Homo sapiens: one gene and its partners. The protein of the gene in region 2 purifies or fractionates together with the protein of the main gene of each other region. This does not show direct contact. Each region holds a gene or a part of one and is shown on either strand. Other genes may lie near its edges.

Region 1 (7,328 bases), on a different chromosome or scaffold from region 2:
TATTCTGTGTCATGATTTTGGTGGTCGTTTCACAAATCTAAAACTCAGAAATATCTGCCCCCCCAAAAGTGCCATATTTTGCTGTCTGTTAATTTTATTAAGAGAAGAACTCCATAAATAGAGAACAAATAATGAAACAAATAAACAAAGCCAAAAGTTGATTCTTTGAAAAATTAATAAAATTGATAAGCCTCAAGCAAAACTTGAAGTCTTGATTAAGAAAAAAGAAACCAGAAATTAGCAATGTCAGGAATGAAAGAGGGGACATCCCTACAAACATTAAAAAGATATTAAGGAACTCACATTAATGATATTAAGGAAATAATTGTGAACAACTTTATGCCAATAAATCTGACAACTTAAATGAATTAGACAGATTTCTTCAAAGATACAAACCATTTCCCCTTATATCTCATGGACCAGAAATGAATCACATACTCATTCCTCGGTGCCAGCAAGGCAAAGCGAGGGTCTGGCACAGGGAAGCAGAATGGTCATGGATAGCTTAGCTCAATTACACTTTATTGCTTACAGCTGGGCACACTGTTCCCCCTCTCCATCCAAAAAAATCAGGAGTGTATTAGAAGCAAGGGAAAGCACTTTGTGTGGGAAGCTAACGATGCTTGCCTATTAGGTTTTCAGTCACTTGCAATCAAAAGACTCCTCATACTGTATACTTACTAGCTAAAATGGAATCTTTAAGCAATGTACTTAAAGTGCCCAGAGGGAGATACTTTTGAGCTGAAGGGGACTGAGAGCTCCAAAGCCTGGAAAAAAAATCAGTCTTGGATGGAATCTGATAACACCAAATCTGAAGGTCTATGCTTTCCTTCCAGTGTGAACACTTTTTTTTTTTTTTTGATCAGGATCTCACTCTGTCCACAAGGCTTAAGTACAGTGATGCGATCAGAGCTCACTGCATCCTCAACCCCTCAGGTTCAAGAAATCCTCCCACCTCAGTCTCCTGAGTACCTGGGACCAAAGGTGCAGGCCACTATGCCCAGCCTGAAAACTTTTCTGGCTGGCTTCCTCCATTTCAGGGTGCCTCCCTTCCCTCTTAGCACACTATCTCATTTAGGAGCCCTTACAGGCCTTCTGCTTTTCTCTACTGTAGCACTTCTACACTGCCTTGTGAATACTTGTTTTTTTCTGTTGTTGTTGTTTATTTCCTTAACAAGATGGTAATGTTAAAAGAAGGAATCAAACTGGACATGGTGGCTCACAACTGTACTCCTAGCGTTTTAGAAGGCTGAGGCGGGAGGATCCCTACCAGGAGTTCCAGGCTGCAGCAAGCTGTGATTATGCCACTGCACTCCAGCCTGGGCAACAGAGTGAGATCTCATCTCTTTTAAAGGGAAAAACAAAGACGGAATCATGACTTCATTTTATTCATCTCTATTATCTCTGGTACCCAGGTAGTATCTGTCTGGTCATTTTGTTCGTTTTACCATTAATTAATGAATCAGATGTTTGGTATCAAGGCAAGGTTGAAAGATTTGGCTGGTAAAGAAATGAACCCTTTTTGAATTTAGACATATTATTATTTGCACAGACATTGAAAGCAAAAGCAAGTGCCAGCTCTCCATGAGCTTTTGTCTCAGATACCAAAATGATGACACCAAAACAGAAGGGGCTGGATGACTACAGCATACACTGTGGACACCTTGTTGCTGAGGGGTTAATGCCATGCTGCAGCTAAGCCTTGTTATAACCTGCAGCTGTACTCTAAGAGGGTAAGGCAGAATGGCTCGTTGGAACCCAGGAAGCAATAGAAACTGCCTCATGATAGTCTCTTTGGAAGACAGAGAGCTGAGTGGGAAATGGCCTTGCACTAGCTGCTTACAAGCCTCTCATGCACTCATCTTCTGGGAAGATCCCAAGGTGTTCTGCCAAGACTCAGATCAGCTGTGGTTCAGGCATTGCCTATGTGGCCTATGTGGATATGTGCAAGGTTGTCAGGCCCGGGTATGAAGCTGCTCCCTCCATTCAGGTTGTCCAGAGGAACATGTTTTATCTTGACTAGATCTTTAAGATGGCAACAAGGGCCACCATTCAGGAAAAAATCCCAGAGGACCTCAGAAGGATGGTGTTTCAAAGCGGGTGTTAGTAGCCCCTGCCCTCAAAGGAGTAACTTAGTGAGGAAAACCTTACTGTGGTTTCCATTTAGTAGTTTACAAATAATTAATAATAATAGAATGGAGGCCAGGCACGGTGGCTCATGCCTGCAATCCTAGCAATTTAGGAGGCCAAGGCAGGAGGGTCACTTGTGCCCAGGAGTTGGAGAGCAGCCTGGGAAACATAGGAAGAACTCATCTCTGAAAAACAAACAAACAAACAAACAAATTAGCTGGGCATGGTGGAGCACACCTGTTGTTTAAGGACTTATCAAAAGTGTAAGTCCAGCCTTCCATAAGCATTTCAAGATAAATTATTACAGCATAAAATGGAGGCCTTTAAATAGGAGAATGAAGTGGTTTGATTTGTAATTTTAAATGATTGCATCAACAGCTGTTTTATGGTATAAAATGCCCAGTTAGGAGGCTGAGGCGGGAGGATCACTGAGTCTGGGAGGTTGAAGCTGCAGTGAGCCAAGACTGCACCATTGCCCTACAGCCTGGGTGACAGAGCAAGACCCTGTCTCAAAAACAAAACAAACAATATAATCACAGGAAAAGGGTTTTGTAAAATTTTGCAACATTTTTAACTTCCTCAAGGTTAGGTTTCAGATTTATTATTTTTGTTTTCCAACATTAATTAGATGTAAAAACTCTTAAAACAAAAATGCCTTCAGCTAGCCTTTACAAATCAGATAAGAGGGAAAGGTTGGGAAGAGCAGCCAAGTTGCTTAGGGGCCGTATCCAAGTAGCAGAGTGAAAAGGCTGTACTTCTGAAGCTTCCTGCAATGGAGAGAAGTGTTAGCAGGGGTTGTGAGAAGAGCTCTGGTCGGAATGAAAAGCAGTGGTATACCATCAGCTGCTCGCTCACTTGCTCTCTCATGCACGAATCCAGCGGAGCCTGACGGCACTTTTCAGAGGGCATTTTCTCCAATGAGGCAAAAAGTCAAAGCCTGAGGATCTTGAAATGCTTATGTTAGGCTGGATCTACACTTTTGACCAGTCCTTAAACAACAGGGCTCCTTTGTGTGGTGTCTGATGCCAATCATGTGACCTAGCTAAAGGCAGCAATGTAACCATCCCACAATTCATTTATTTATTCAACAAATATTTATTGAGTTCTCTATTTACCAGGCAGTCAGCTTCCAGGATCTAGGATGGGATACTGTGGTGAGCAAGACAGACAAGGTCCCTGCCCTTAAGGGACTTAAAGACAAAACAAAACAAAAAATAAAACAAGTAAATAAATGAGATCACTTCCATTAATAACAGTGCCATGAAGGGTCATGCGCCATGAAAGGCAGGTGGTGAGGCTGAGGATCTTGGGCCACAATGAGCCGAGGAGCTGAGGTGACTGGGGGCGCCAGGGTCTGGGGGTGCGGGCAGGCAACAGACCACAGGGGACTTACAGGCCATTATAAGGAGTTTTTATGTCATAAATTATTATGACATAAATTGGAGGGCTTTAAATAGGGGAGTGAAGTGGTCTGATTTGTAATTTTAAATGATCGCGTCAGCAGTTGTTTTATGGTATAAAATGCCCAGCTTTAAGATGACCATGCATTCTACAAATTCACCGTGACATCACTGCCAAAACTCTTAACCTGTCTTATCTAGTTTTCCTGACAGATAAATAGGTCGGAATAAAGCTCCATGACATAACTAGTGGGAGCCAAAGATTTGAATCACGTCTTGGTTTCAAATCTTGCTACCCACAAATGAGTTGTGAGCTCTTGTCAGGTTATTTACTGTATTTGTGCCTCAACTATCTCAGCTGTGAAATGGGGATAATGAAAGTTCCTACATCATTTATTTGTGGAAAAAAAAATGACATGTAAAGCACGACGAGAGCGCCTGGCACAATGTAGTAAGCTTTCACAAACACTCACTTTCATTCCTTCTTGCAGGGGATTACTGAGAGGATCCACAAGATAATGCACGTGAAAGGGCTTGCGAAATTGTAAGGACTATCTTAATGGTAGAGTCCTCTTTATGTTTTCTTTTAAACGGTCCAGAGGACGCTGGGCTGTTCGAGGAGAGGCGCGAGGCCAAGCGCAGCCTCAATGCGGTCATTGTCGTGGGGCCGCCCCTCCCCCGCCCGGGGCGCTTCTCCATGGCAACGTGGGCTTTACCTCTCCCCGCCTCCTCAGGCCCGCAGACCGGAAGCAGCCCGCGCCGGGGGCTTCTGGGAAAAGGCTTGTGAACGGCGTTTCTGCGTCTGCCGTGGACAGCGAAGCTGCTGCGGTTCCTGAGCCGGAGGTTTGCGCCGGTGTGCGGGGAACGTTATGAGAGGGAGGGGGGACACCGGGCTAGGGTCTGCGGACCTCTTAGCAGGAGCCGGCGGGGAAGCCTGTCCGGGACCTTCCTCAGCTTCCCGGGAGGCGCGGGGAACAGGCCGCGGTCTCCGCGCCTAGCAGTTGTGGGGCGGGGAGGGGTAGGCGGCAGGCCTGCTTGGGTCTTCGGCATTTGCAGAGAGCTCTCTAACCCCCTGTGTCCTCCGAGACCCTCACCTTCCCCCTCCCCCACCGGCCGGTTTTGTTCTATTTCGAGGCCCTGGCGTCTCGCGGAGGGTTCTGGGAGTCGTGATGGGAGGGGGTGGTAGTGGGACGAGACTTGCGCGGGGCTTCTGGGATTTGTAGTCTCACCGGCCGCAGGCGGAAGTGCCGTGGTTCCGACGCTGTTGTCACAGGGTGGCCTTTGGTCATCTGAAATCCGCGGTCCTGAGTGCTGGGAAGAGGGGCTAGAGGACGTCGGGCCGGGGCCGGGGCCGGGGCCGGGATACACAGCAGGTCTATGCAGCAGTAAGGTGGGCGATCCACCTGGGACGAGGTACCCTGCCCAAACATTGTCGGGACCGTGGGCCTTCCCTCCATTTCCCACAAGCGGTATGCTCTACAGCATAAAAGGAAGAGAAAATTATGTAGAAATACTTGCACCGTTGATAAGCAGGGTCTTGGAATAGGAACGAATGAATGTTGGCTAGACCTTATGTATAAGGCCACCACACTCCAGGGTATTTAATTAAACCAGTATGTATTACTTGTCTGATAAGGCCTTTTCTGATTCTAGTCTTCATCTTGCTTGGGTTACAATAAGTTTTTTTAAGTTGTTATTGTTCAGATTTTGGGCCCTGAATAAATAAATAGGCTGAATGGCTCATTGCTAGTATGTGTCGTAAACAACAGCACGGGCATGATCGTGCAAATAATAAAGGTCCAGAAGCAGTATACAGTTTCACTGAAGGTAGAAGCTGGGGAAACTGTGAGTCCTCCAGTGTAAGGACAAGACACTGGACCACTGCAGGAAGTCAAGGTGCTTATGCGAGTGCCTTTTCTTAATAGAAGTTTCTGTGATTAATGCCTATCATTATAAATATAAATGTACGTATGGTGTGGTGGAAGACTGAATATTTACGTATTATGTGCAAGATAATTTTTCAAAATTATGTGATGTTTTTCACATATGATCTTTTCAATATTATGTGATCTGCTACTCAGCAAGTGAACATTTTTTCACATATAAGTCCAAGGAGTTCTTAAACACCTTAAAAATATTTTTTAAATGGTAAAGAAAATTTTTTTAAGCACATAATAATAAAGCGAACCTTCCTTTTGAGTTGACTTGTGTGTGTCAGGAAACACCAATCCTGAATTGGAAATAATGCGTTCCAGGGTCAGGCACATTTAGAAAGCACTGAAGTAGTCTGGTTCTTACTTGGATTCTTTTGATTATTGACATAGGGTTTGTCGTCTTAGTAGGTCATGATTGGCAAACTTTTTCTGTAAGCGGCCATATAGTAAATAAGGTCATGCATAACTCAACGATAGTGCTATGGTCTGAGAAATATGTTAGGCTATTTCATCCTTGTGTGAACGTCATAGAATGTACTTGCACAAACCTAAATGGCGTAGCCTACTACACACTTAGGCTATCTGGTATAGCCTATTGCGCCTAGGCTACAAACCGGTACGGCATGTTGCTGTACTGAATACTGTAGAGAATTGTAACACAATGCTAACTATTTGTGTATCAAAACATAGAAAAGATAAGAGTAAAATATGATATAAAATGTTTGAAAAAAAAAAAAGATATGCCTGTACAGGGCACTTACCATGAATGGACCTCGCTGGATTGGAAGTTGCTCTAAGAAGTCAGTGAGTGAGTGGTGAATTTGGAGGCCTGGGACATTATTGTACATTCCTATAGACCATATAAACACTGAACACTTAGGCTACACTAAATTTATTAAGAAAACATTTTTCTTCAATAATTAACCTTAGCTTACTGGAACTTTTTCACTTACAAACTTTTACATTTTTTTTTAACTTTTTTACTCTTTTGTGATAACACTTCACTTAAAATACAAACACATTGTACAGCTGTACAAATATATTTATATCCTTATTCTGTAAGCTTTTTGCTTTTTTTTTTTTATAGACAGAGTCTCGCTCTGTCGCCAGGCTAGAGTGCAGTGGCGCGATCTTGGCTCACTGCAGCCTCCACCTCGCGGGTTCAAGAGATTCTCCTGCCTCAATCTCCCCAGTAGCTGGGACTACAGGCGCAATCCACCACGCCCAGCTAATTTTTGTATTTTTAGTAGAGACAGGGTTTCACCATGTTGGCCAGGATGGTCTTGATCTCTTGACCTCGTGATCTGCCTGCCTCAGCCTCCCAAAGTGCTGGGATTACAGGCCTGAGCCACCGTGCCCGGCACAGCTTTTTGCTATTTTTAAATTCATTTTTTAGAGACAGGGTCATACTCTGTTGCCCAGGCTGGAATGCAGTGGTGTGATCATAGCTCAGTGGAGCCTTGAACTCCTGGTCTTTAGTGATCCTCCTGCCTCAGCCTCCTATAGTGCTGGGATTACAGGTGTGAACCATTGCACCTGGCCAATTTTTTTTTTCTTTTGGAACTGTTTTTGTTAAAAGCTAAGATAAACACATTAGCTTAGGCTTACACAGGGTCTGGATTATCAGTATCATTGCCTTCTACCTCCATATCTTGTCCCACTGGAAGGTTTTCAGGAGCAGTAACATACATGGAGCTGTCATCTCCATAATAACAGTGCCTTCTGTAATACCTCCTGAAGGACCTGCCTGAGGCCATTTTGCAGTTAACTTTTTTATTTAGTAAGTAGAAGGAGCACACTCTAAAATAATATAGTATAAAAAGTATAGTAAATACATAAACCAGTAACATAGTCGTTTATTATT
Region 2 (4,137 bases):
GGGGATGTGTTTGCATTTGAAGGTACAGATAGGGCCCCGGGAATGTCTTGGTTTCTGTGCCTGACCCAAGTGTGTCGATAGCTCCTCTGATGCCCCCTGAGAGTCAGGGGAACTAAGCATGCCCCTCTCTCCACACATACATGCCACCCACTCTTCTCTCCACGCAGCCCCTCTGCTGCCCTTGATTAGTCACAGACGCCAAGGTGGGTGAAGTAGGGAAGAGCCTGACTGTCCACAATGGCCCCCAGTAGCCAGGTACCAGGAAGAGGCGTAAAAGGGAGTCCCGCCTTTACTCCTATAGATGGTGGCTCCTCTGGTTACGATTTCAGAATTCAACATGTTTTACAATCAAAACTAGCATTTGATAAGAAATAAAAATCAATAACCCAGCCAAACACACCATCCACATACTCCCAACGTGAGAGCAGGAAGAATCTTGTGCCTTAACTCCCTTCCTGCCATCAGCTCCCTCCCTCCCTCCCTCCCTCCTCCGTCTCTAGCCCAGCAATCCCTCTACTCCAGTTTTGCCCAGCTATTGGGAATCTTGGACAGCTTCCTTAGGCCCCTGTGCATCCAGGTAGGGTTGGGGCAGCAGAAAGCGAAGACCCACTCAAGACAGACCTTGTCAGTGCGTGCTTGACTCCTGGTCTTTTCTGATGCTTTGTTTGACTCAACATACCTCCTCCAACAACCTGATTTGCATTGATAAGTGTCACTGTGTTTTCCTTTGACACGACTCCGTTGCAGTTTGCCGAGCCCTTGATGGTACCAGGCTCTGGGCACGTAGCACCCACATCCTCACTGGAAACCCAGAGAGCTAAAGCTCCTCATCCAGGGCCACACAACAAGCAGGGCTGGAGCCTGGACACCAAGCCAAGCCCCTCTGTTTCGAATTCTTGCTCTTCAACCACAGCTCAGTCTCCTCCCAGGAAGTGGTGATCCCCGCTTTGGGCGGGACACGGTTAGGTGCATCAGAGGTCATAGGTCGCAGGTGGGATGTGAAGTCTGTGAAGTCGCCCACTTCCTCTGGGCTTGTGGGCAAGGACAGTGCAGCCTTGGGGGACGGGAGTTAGGAGCCCCAGCTTGTAACAGTGACCCGAGCTGTGGCACAGGTCCCCTGGCTCCATCTAATGCTCTGTTGTCACTGTCCTGAAATGATCAACGATCTTTGAACAAGGGGATTTGCATTTCCATTTTGTACAGGGGCCCCTCGAATTCTGTCTCAGGTCCTGTTAAGAGCTCTTTAGGAGTGGTTATTTATTTTTTGTATAAGCAGAGTCTTGCTGTGTTGCCCAGGCTGGTCCCAAACTCCTGGCCTCAAGCAATCCTCCAGCATCAGCATCCCAAAGCACGGGAACAACAGGCGCGACACCGCGCACTGCCCTGGGACAGAGCCTTTGGGGATGACGCCCGTTCCTTGGTTGTTCGGTGGTGGTGGGGAGGATGGCTCCTGAGGGGCAGCTGCCGAACAGTCCTGTGCTTGCCATTCTAGGCGTCTGAGCTGATTCTGGATGCAGTGGCAGCAGCCCCAGCACTCCCCGAGGAAAGTGAGTGGCTGGAGACTACCCAGCTCCAGCAGAGTCTGCACACCAGGGCGGAGGCCGAAGCGCCCCGCGCCCCTGGCTTGCTGGGTGAGTCTGGCTCCTGTGTGGATTAAGGGTTGGAAATGGAGTTTGGGACTTCAACCCAAAGCCACAGACTTTGTTAATGGGTTGAGTTGGGTGCTTCGGTGGTGAACTCCACACTTCCCCCAGAAAGCATGCACACCTCCTGTGAGGACTGAGATCTGGGGCCCCTAGAACCACCATGTACATCGTTCACCCTACGAGAAGGGCCTCAGCCTCCGCACCTGAACGGCAGCCAAGGCAGACAGTCTGAGAGTGTTGGAGCACGGGGTTACCCAGAGGGCCAGCCAGGTAGGAACAAGGGCCAGTGCTGTGGGATCTGCTCCCAAAACATGTGCCTTTTTTTTTTTTTTTCGAGACAGAGTCTTGCTCTGTTGCCCAGGCTGGAGTGCAGTGGTGTGATCTTGGCTCATTGCAACCTCCGCCTCCTGGGTTCAAGCGATTCTCCTGCCTCACCCTCCTGAGTAGCTGGGATTACAGGCGCACACCACCACGCCCAGCTAATTTTTGTATTTTAGTAGAGACGGGGTTTCACCATGTTGGTCAGGCTGGTGTCTAACTCCTCACCTCATGATCCACCTTCCTCGGCCTCCCAAAGTGCTGGGATTACAGGCATGAGCCACTGCACCGGCCACATGTGCCCTTGTATCTTAAAGGACAGAACGGAGGACACAGGGGCCGTATTGAGCAGAGGAAGGGCCTGGACTTGGCTCAGTCACTGGGGTCCTCCGTGCCCCTGGGGAGCACAGGGAGATGCCAAGGCCATCCACTCACTACAGGTGACCCATCTCCCTCGCCCTCCACAGGGTCCCGGGCCCGCTTGCCTCTGAAGCCGAGTATCTGGGACGAGCCTGAGGACCTTCTCGCAGGGCCCTCCTCAGACCTGCGGGCAGAAGGGACTGTGATCTCGAGCCCCAAGGGTCCAAGTGCTCAGAGAATCAGTCCCCGAAGGAGAAACAGGAACACTGACCAGAGCGGCCGCCACCAGCCATCCCTCAAGCACACCAAAGGTGGTACCCAAGAGGCTGTTGCAGGCATCTCGGTAGTGCCGCGTGGGCCCCGAGGTGGGCGGCCCTTCCAGTGTGCCGACTGTGGGATGGTCTTCACCTGGGTCACCCACTTCATCGAGCACCAGAAGACCCATCGCGAGGAAGGGCCCTTTCCGTGCCCCGAGTGTGGCAAGGTCTTCCTGCACAACTCCGTCCTCACTGAGCATGGCAAGATCCACCTGCTGGAGCCACCGAGGAAGAAAGCCCCCCGGAGCAAGGGCCCCCGGGAGTCCGTCCCACCCAGGGATGGAGCCCAGGGCCCAGTGGCCCCTCGCAGCCCCAAAAGACCCTTCCAGTGTAGCGTCTGCGGGAAGGCCTTCCCCTGGATGGTCCACCTCATTGACCACCAGAAGCTCCACACGGCCCACGGCCACATGTGAATGGCCAGCCTCGGGCCTCGGCCACCCGGCCCTGAGTCCCTGGGGGGAGCTGATGGGCCCCAGAAGATGGGGGACATCCCCCAGCCCCACCAACCCCTGGCCACCTTGGGACTCCTCTTGAAGGACACAAGCTGTTTCTCGGAAGACCCTGGACACCTGCTCCGAAGCCAAGCACGGGATGGGGCTTCCCAGGGTCTCAGCTGAGAAGCAGCAGTTCCACAGCACAGCCTGGTCAGTCCTGCGCACTATAGTTTTGCAAGTGGCTTGAAGAGGAGTTTCATTCGCGTCCCATCTTTCAGAAGCCTTGTCCAGGTCTCCCTGTTAGCACCTGACTCAGCGGCAGCTTCTGCCGCTGGGTTTTCATTTCACTGTGGATATCCCTGAGGCCATGAGGGTGGGAGCCGGCCTGGGCAGCTCCAACTCCAGAGAAGGGTACAGCTGACCCCGGCTGCCCTCCTGCCAGCTTAGCCCCCTTGGAACCTAACAGATAAACAGGGTTTTGTTTTTTTCCTTTTTTGGGTAAAGTACATGCAACATAAAATTTACCATTTCAGTCATTAAAAATGAACAGTTCAGTGGCATTAAGCACATTCACAACACTGTGCAACTACCAGCACTCTCTAGCTCCAAAGATGTTTTCGTCTTGCCCAGAAAGAGAGCCCACAGTCCTCAGCACGCCTTCGCCATTCCTGCCCGCCCTGACAACCAGAATCTGCTTCCTGTCTCTGAGGATTTCAGGCGCAGTCTTTAGGCCTGACCAAAACTGACCTGCCTGTATTTTGTTTGACTTACAGAAGGATTTTTTTTTTAGATAGATGCCAACATTTGTTTAAACCATAAAAATCTGGCTTTCTGGTCTGCCAGGAAGGATCAGATGGTCTCCAAAGAGTGGGCCCGCCTCTCCTGCTAGGCTGGAGCAGAGTGTGGGCAGGCGGTGACGTCACAGCGGGGAGCCAGCCTCGGACTCGGCTTCTCACCCGTCCCCAACTCATTGTTGTCGGACACTCGTCCCCTTTCAAGCAAAAGCCTTAAAAGTTTTTGCCTTTTTCTTTTTCTCCTCCCGACTTCACTTGGAAACACAGT
Region 3 (7,728 bases), on a different chromosome or scaffold from region 2:
CTCTGCAGGGGGTGATGTCACAGTGGAACGGCTGCCCACCTGGGGGGCGATGTCACAGTGGAACGGCTGCCCACCTGCAAAGCACTGGGGCTTTAGGTTACACATCACATTTCCTTGTGCACACTTCACTTTCCAGGTTATATATAATTCACCCTTTCCTTTGTTATCGTCCATTCACCTTTCCACTCTGCAAGATGGCCGTCTCACGCCCTCTTCCTCCTGCTCTCACATTTCACCCTCTCTTTCTCCCTGTCACTTAAGGGCCCTGTGTAGCAGTCAGGGTTCTCCAGAGAAACGGAACAAATAGCATGTGGAGTGGGGGGAGGGAAGGGGGTGGGGATAGAGAGCTAGAGATCAATAGAGAGAGATGAGGGAGACTGTTTTCTTTTAAGGAACTGATTGGCTTGCAAGTCTAAAATCTGCAGGGCAGGCTGCAGATCCAGAAAGCCGAAGCTGCAGCAAGTCGGAAGGCGCGCCGCAGGGGGAGTTCCTTCCTCAGGAGACTGCAGTCTTTGCTCTTACGGCCTTCGACAGATTGGATGAAGCCCGCCCACGCTATGGAGGGTAACCCGCTGCATTCAAAGTCTACAGATTTAACTATTAATCATATCTAAAAAACAGCCTCACAGAAACACCAGACTGGTGTTTGAACAAAAACTGAGTACCACAGCTAGCCAAGTTGCCTCATAAAATAAAACGTCACACTTGCTCCTTATTTTACTGGAGTGTTGGCAAAGTTGGAAGAAGCCTGCCCCAGGCTCTCCCTGCCCAGATGCTGTGGACATGCCTCAGGTCCAGAGGCAGCCTTCCCTGCCCTCCGGCTCCCCGTGGGCCCTGGGTGCCAGCCCTCCCTCCTCCAGGCGATGCACTGCAATTTCTCCCATCTTTAAGATGAGACCGTTTTTCTCCACAGGGCTGTGTCCACTCTCATCTCCCTTCTCTTCCAGAAAGTGCCCTAGCCCAGGAGCTCCACTGTCTGCTTTGCTCAGGGGCCTCTCTACCAGATTCAATGGGCAGTGTTCTTTCCTCATCGGATTTGATCTTGGCGCAGGATTTATCCCCCTGACCTCTTTCTCTCCTTGAAACACAGGTGCTCACTTGGATTCCAGGGCTCCACACCTGCAATTTTCCTTTTATCTCAAGGCGGCAGCAGCTCTCCCTACCCCCTTCTCTTGCCCTCGTCCTCCCTCACTTTCCTCCTCCTACTTCCCCTTCTCTCCCTTCTCCTCCACTAACCCCTTGGGCTCCCACGGTCCAGGGCTGGCATTTCGCAGGGTCTGCCCTCCCTGGGGCTGCTTCTCAAAACACACTCAACCCTCTCAAGCCCCAGCTCCTGCTACATACGGTGACTCCAGATTTCCACCTCCAGCCACAGCTTTCTATCCCAGAGGGTCATCCCCACTTGTCTCCTGGGCATCTGAAAACCAGCAAGTCCCAAATCCACCAATTCAACCCCAAACCCAACCCCTTCCTGGAAACCTGCTTCCTTGCATCTGCCATCTCTAGAAGGCCTGTTCAGTCACCCAGTTTCAGCCCCAGTCACAGCCGTTCCTCACTCCTCTAACACAGGCAGCATGCCTTCAACACAGAGCCTGGATTGGGCCTACTGTTCACCAGCTGTGCCTCCACCAGTCAACTCCAGGAACCGAGCATCTCCTGCCGGGATCTCTACAACGATTCCTAACAGAGACTCTGCTTCATCTGTTCTGCACAGTGATCTTGATAAAATCAAGATTCCGTTAGGCCACACTCCTACTTGAAACCCTCTAATGACTATAACATCTGGTGACCTGGTTCCAGCCTCACCATTCTCTCACTATTCCTCTGCCCAGCTGAGCAAGCACACGCTGTTTCCTCTGCTGGAATACTCTTCCCACACACCTCTGCTCAGGAGCCCCCCACCTGCTCTCCACTCAAATGTCACCTCCTGACAGAGGCCCTACCTGAACATCCCCAGCACACTCTTCCCCACCATGTTGTATTTCTTTCATGACACCGATCACCAATGGCGTTATATTGCAGAATCGCTGATTTATTATTTGATTCCCCTCCCAACTCCTTGGATCATTCTTCTATGGTCTCCCCATGGATCGAATAATCATTGGCACATAGCAAACATTTCATAAAAACAGATACAATTGGCAACATTATATTCATACAAACCTAATACACGCACACACTGGGCATGATGATGGTGCAGTCCTTGAGCAGGGTTTACAGGCAGGATCCTCTTCCCGATGCTTCACCCGTGGTATCTGATACAACCCCACTTCATTCAGAGGCGAACACCTTCCCCACGGGCTCCTGTGCCCCCACCCAGCTCTATGCCATCCCTCTCCTCTCACTCACCAGCCCACCTTGCTTCGCACCGCTCCCCCTTAGGGCCTTTGCTGTCAAGGTGGTCTCCATGTGTCAAACAGGGACTCTGACCAACTACTTCATCTCAAATACCACCTTCACAGTAAGGCCTGCCTGCCCTCCTCTTTAATACCATGACTGTTACCAGCCCCTCCCCAGCACTCCTGACTTCCTGATGCCTCTCCACTTTCCTTTTTTTCTGTAGCACAGATCAAAGAGAGCAGGTCATGTTACTGATTTTGCTTCCTCCAATAGCCAGTTGTGTTCACAGATGTACCTGAGCACCTGGAAGGCTGGCTGCCTAGCACTCATGAGTGTACAGTAGGTACTCGGTATAGGTTTGCTGAATGACTGAATCTTTGATCCTGCACAACCATCCAATGAGGTAGACAGCATCATCCCTGTTTTCTGGATGAGGAAGTTGAGGTACAGAAAGGTTATGTAGGCCTGAGGTCACCTGGCTAGGAATTCATAGGGCAGGATTTAATCCGGGTGCCTGAGTCCAGAACCTTGACTCTGAAGCCCTGTTTTGAGCTAAATGCAGCAGCAGCATAAACAGCCCGTTTTGTGCCTCAAAAGGTGAACAGTGGGAGGCACAGCTGGGCAGGGACGTGTCAGGTCAGGGGAAGAAACTGAATTGGGTAGTGGGGATTAATTGGATGCTGTCTGCCAGCAATTTCTGCCTCCTGCATTTTATCTGCTTTAGGGTTGCAAGGGGCAGAGCTATGAACACGGATGCCCACTCAACAGCCAGTTCCTGGGCCAATCAAAGGGTTGGGAGCTGTAGCACCAGAGCTCTGGAACCCCACAGACTAGGATGTTTGCTAGAGCACCTAAGCCCTACCAGCCTTTGATGACCCCTCGGTTCCTCCCAATTCCTCTCCTCCATGTCACGGTTCCTGGCTGGTGTTCCTGAGAGTGGGCTGTACATGAGTTCTGTAAATGCCAGTCCAGTTACGTCAAAGGGGGTGGCTCTCACTTGTACCTGTAGGCTCCAGCTAAGATCTGCGTGGCCCTGCCCGGCATCTGGCTGTCATCCGGGAAACAATCACTGTTCACAAACAAGGGCTTCACTCCTTCGCTCGCTCCATCTCCTGCTAAAGTCAGAATGTGAACACTGACAAACAGCGGCTCCCAGTAACTCTGCTAGTCAGAAGTGATTATTCCAGCAGTTCAGAGGAGGAAGTGGCGGTGCCCAGGGCCACGGGATTAGAAGAGCAACGGAGCTAAAGGATCCCGTGCCTCAGTCCAACCACCTTGTTCCCACTTACTCAGCCGGGCCACTTTCTTTGGAGAAACTGATTTCCTTCTGCTTGCCCTTGAAAGGGGATCCGAAGGAAATCGGAGCTACCGGCAGTAGCTACCCTCCGGAAGACGGAGAATCTTCTCCACCTTCTCCTCTGCGTAGGAGAATCCAATTTCGGTGCAGAGCAGATGGCGAAGGGGCCATGGGAATCAGACCTGCTCAGGGACCGGGTTCGCACTTTCTCTCAAGCTCTGGAGCCTGAAAAATGAGCATTCCCCGGGGACGACCCATGTAAGAATTTGGGCTATATTCAGCATAGTGCAGCGGCCAGCAGCCCTGTCTCGGGGTGGGGTCCGGAGGCCCCCATTTCTGCTTGCCCCTCACTGCCACATAACCTTGGGTCAGAGTCCCTCATCCTCTCCCTCCGCCACTGTGCACAGCTGCAACCGTGTTCACTTCAGCGAGCAACGAGCCCCGTGACCCCCACTCAGGGTCAGGACTCACCGCAGCCCCTCTGCGCAAGCCCCGAGGCTCTGCGTGGCCTCCGGATGCGCGGCCTTTCCTAACCCGGGGACTCCGCACGTGGGCGCCAGGCCCGGAAGGCGCGGATGTGAGCGCTACCTTCGGCGTCCCGCAGCGGCAGGAGGGGCTGGGCGGCCCGGGCTTCGGCTGGCGGCGGGGGGGGGGTCGCAGGGGAGTCTGAAATGAGGCGGCCGACGGCGCGCGGGGCCTCCTCTCTCCGCTCCATCCCGCACCCCCAATTCCAGCTTCCATCCCCAGCCGCGACTCCCGGTCGGCCGTTCCGGGCGTCCACTGGCCGCGTGTCCTGGGGGCGCCAGAGAAGGAGAACAGCGGAGAAAAGAGCCCCGGGCCGACCTTCCGGACCGGCGGGCCCGCGGGGAAGCCCGGGCGCGGCGACGTGGCTGACCCACAAAGCCCCCGGCCCGGCGGCCAGGCCCAGGCGCGCGCGGAGCGGGGCGGGCCGGGGGTGTCGGATGTCACCCCCAGCGCACACCTCGGCCGGGGGGCGGGGGAGCGAACCACTGAGATGCGGAGACCTCCCCAGTCCTAGAGCGGAGCAGGAAGTGTCCCAGGGGAGGGAGCCGGAGGGCTCCGGCCTTTCCTTTCCTCGGCGTCCGGCGGGCTCCCGCGGCGGCCAGGCCTGCGCCGCCCGCCAACAGGGACGCGCCGCGGCGGTGAGTGCACCCCGGCTCCCGCGGCCGGCCCCGCCCCGCCCTCCTCGGCCCGCGCCCGGCCTCCGCGGCGCCGCCTCCCAGCCCAGAGCCCAGCGCTCAGGAAGGTGCGGGCGGGGGAGAAAGCAACACCATTGTTTTTCAGGCGCCTCCATTTGCCCCCGAGCCGAGCCGTGGCTTTCCGGATGATCGGGAGACGCGGTCTGGACGGGCCGGGAAAGGAGCCGGGCGCCTGCGGAGACCCCGCCTCAGCGAGTACGCCCGGCCGGGCGGGCTGGGAGGATGAGGACGGCTGCCCTGGACTTCCGCCGCCACAGGAGGGTTTTCGGCCGGACGCCGGGAGGGAGCTCCAGGCTGTGAGGTGAGGAGCCCGGAGCCGGCGAGACGGGAGACGCGCGTGTGAGGGAGACCGAGGGCGCGGAGGGCGGGCTCCCCCTTCCCTGGCCCACAGCGACCTTCTCCTTCCCTTTCTGCCGATCCAGCTCGGTCCCTCCTCCGCGAAAGGCTGGGAGCTCGCTCCGCCCCTGCGGGGCCCTCCTCCGCCTCACTCACGTTAGTTCATTCATCAGGCATCTCCTCCGAGCCTCCGACGCGCCAGGTGCCGCCGTGACAAAGACGGACGCGGCCGTCTGGTTGGAGACGATCCGAGTGGCAGCCCGGGTGGGCGCCGGTGCTCGGGGGGGCGGGCCTGAGTAGTCCTGGGCGCTGCAGGTGTGTGATGGGCGCCGCAGGGGGCCGCCGAGCAGGGCGGGCGGGGCCCACCCCGGGCTCCAGATGCCGGAGCCGCCCTGGAAGCGATCCGGTGGTGGGGAGCGCTGTAATGCGTCCAGCCCGACGCCGCCACGGCCCCCATATGGGTTTCTGTGTATGTTGTTACTTTGGAAAGCAAAGAGATTCAGAGCAGTGGGTGTTTCTGGAACCACTCAGTTGTTCCGTAGCTTTTCTGGCATCACTTGTCTTTCTGTGAAATGGGAGTGAGGCCCGAGTCCCCCTTCCCACCTTGTGAGCTGTTGGAGGTTAAGACGCGGCCACGCTGGACAACCTCGTGCAGATGGGGGAGTGGCAGGCACTGCCGGTCCTAAGGATCACAGAGGCCTGATGGCAGAGAAGGGGACTGTGAGTGTCCCCATGTGCCCTTTCACGGGCCCAGCGTTCTAAAGTGGGAATCATAAACACCAGGTATACTGGTTGCTGGTCTCTTGCCACCCTAGTTGTGGCAAAAGTGTCGGCTAGTTGTCTGCACACCAGCGGGGAGGTGTAGGGACCCCTGAGTCCCACCTTGGGGGTGTGGCAGCTGCAGTGTCCAGGGGTTCTTTGAGGGCTGAGCTGTGCAGTGACGGACCCACTTTTCTGTCCTGGCCGAGGAAGGGCTTTGGCGAGTGTGCAGTTGCCTTCAATGTGGTTTGAAGAGGGCAAGGATAGAGAATAGGGTGGAGGCGAGGTTGAAGGTCAGGGCAGAATTGGCAGAAGGCTCATAGGAAACCACTGATACTTCTAGATGCAGTGTTATTTGTCCCTGGTAGACTGCATGTAGCTGTCTCATGTGATGTTTTCCCTTGCCTCCCATTGCAGACTCTGCTGGGCAAAGCTGATTCTGGCTGGGTTGTCCATCCAGCACGCAGCACCATCAGCCCTCTGCCACCAGAAGGGTGGATTTTCCATTCCTGGATGTGCTTGAAGGCTCATCCGATGCATGTCTTTGTCATTCCAGCTCCATTTGTAAAGGTCTTAATAACAAGAACAGTGACTTCGGCTCCGGAGCTTCAAGATAGTGGCCTGCTTGGCCTGCCCATCTCGGATCTCTCCAGGAGGACCCAGCCACCCAAGGTACCAGAGCGTCTTGATTACATCTGCATGTGGCGCTGTTGGTTTCCTGGGATGCTCAAAACAGCAGTGTCACGTTGAAATGCCACCACTTTCTCCCAGATTTCCTGTCTTGTTCATCCAGTCACCCACTTAACGGGAATCCACACGTAATGGTACTGATGGGGGGAGGGCATCTTTCTGTCTGTTTCATCCTGTGTGTAAAGACCAGCCACACCAACACTCCCTACCTTTCCCAGGGCTTCTCCAAAGGGCTGGTCTCTGAGGGCATTGACAGTTTCCTTGTCACTGTCCCCCAGAAATGACCACAGGAGACCAGAACACTGAAGCCAGTGATTTCTGTTTGGAAATAGGGTCGTCTTCTGCTGCTGACCCCCATCAAATCCCATCATGCCCACAGCCCTGTGCCCCCGAGTCTTGGCTCCGAAGGAAAGTGAGGAGCCCAGGAAAATGAGGAGCCCACCTGGAGAGAACCCTAGCCCCCAGGGGGAGCTTCCCAGCCCCGAGTCCTCTCGGCGTCTCTTCCGCCGTTTCCGCTACCAGGAGGCGGCGGGCCCCCGGGAGGCCCTGCAGCGCCTCTGGGACCTGTGCGGGGGCTGGCTGCGGCCTGAGAGGCACACCAAGGAGCAGATTCTGGAGCTGCTGGTGCTGGAGCAGTTCCTGGCCATCCTGCCCCGGGAGATCCAGAGCTGGGTGCGGGCGCAGGAGCCTGAGAGCGGAGAGCAGGCTGTGGCCGCGGTGGAGGCACTGGAACGGGAGCCCGGGAGACCCTGGCAGTGGGTGAGTAGAAGAGGTGGGGCTGGGACGGGTAGAGATCTGGTACTTAGACACTTTGGCTGGGCCATGCATGTGCTGGCTGGGGAATGAGGAGTTCCATCGAGAGCCATTTACTTTGGTTAGGTCCAGACTAGAGTTTCCTAAGAAAGCCAGTTTTACTCCCTGAAGGCTCTAATTTGGGCATGATAGTGTCGTGCCCCTTTACAGCCCAGTCCAAGGCCTAAGTTGAGCCTTTGATGGTCAGCTGTGGAGTGGATGGTCACCAGGCCCAGGGAGAGATGGGACCTCTTCCCCTAGCCCTGAAAAGCTGTCTCTGGGATTGCAGCTCAA

What was found. The genes of interacting proteins can lie anywhere in the genome.
Region 1: the proteins of ZSCAN1 (region 2) and ZNF24 purify together in Homo sapiens (affinity purification with mass spectrometry; 3 studies listed by BioGRID and IntAct, with this or other methods). This does not show direct contact.
Region 3: the proteins of ZSCAN1 (region 2) and ZNF496 purify together in Homo sapiens (affinity purification with mass spectrometry; 3 studies listed by BioGRID and IntAct, with this or other methods). This does not show direct contact.

The regions. Positions count from the first base shown.
Region 1 is NC_000018.10:35,341,415-35,348,742, reverse strand, and holds the start of ZNF24 (zinc finger protein 24), read left to right. Parts: upstream 1-4,322; 5' UTR 4,323-4,383; exon of another isoform or gene 4,384-4,689; intron 4,690-7,328. UniProt on the Homo sapiens protein: Transcription factor required for myelination of differentiated oligodendrocytes. Required for the conversion of oligodendrocytes from the premyelinating to the myelinating state.
Region 2 is NC_000019.10:58,050,998-58,055,134, forward strand, and holds the end of ZSCAN1 (zinc finger and SCAN domain-containing protein 1), read left to right. Parts: intron 1-1,492; coding exon 1,493-1,631; intron 1,632-2,431; coding exon 2,432-3,054; 3' UTR 3,055-3,634; downstream 3,635-4,137. UniProt on the Homo sapiens protein: May be involved in transcriptional regulation.
Region 3 is NC_000001.11:247,328,862-247,336,589, reverse strand, and holds the start of ZNF496 (zinc finger protein 496), read left to right. Parts: upstream 1-4,722; 5' UTR 4,723-4,800; intron 4,801-4,942; 5' UTR 4,943-5,158; intron 5,159-6,508; 5' UTR 6,509-6,624; intron 6,625-6,974; 5' UTR 6,975-7,011; coding exon 7,012-7,401; intron 7,402-7,723; coding exon 7,724-7,728. UniProt on the Homo sapiens protein: DNA-binding transcription factor that can both act as an activator and a repressor.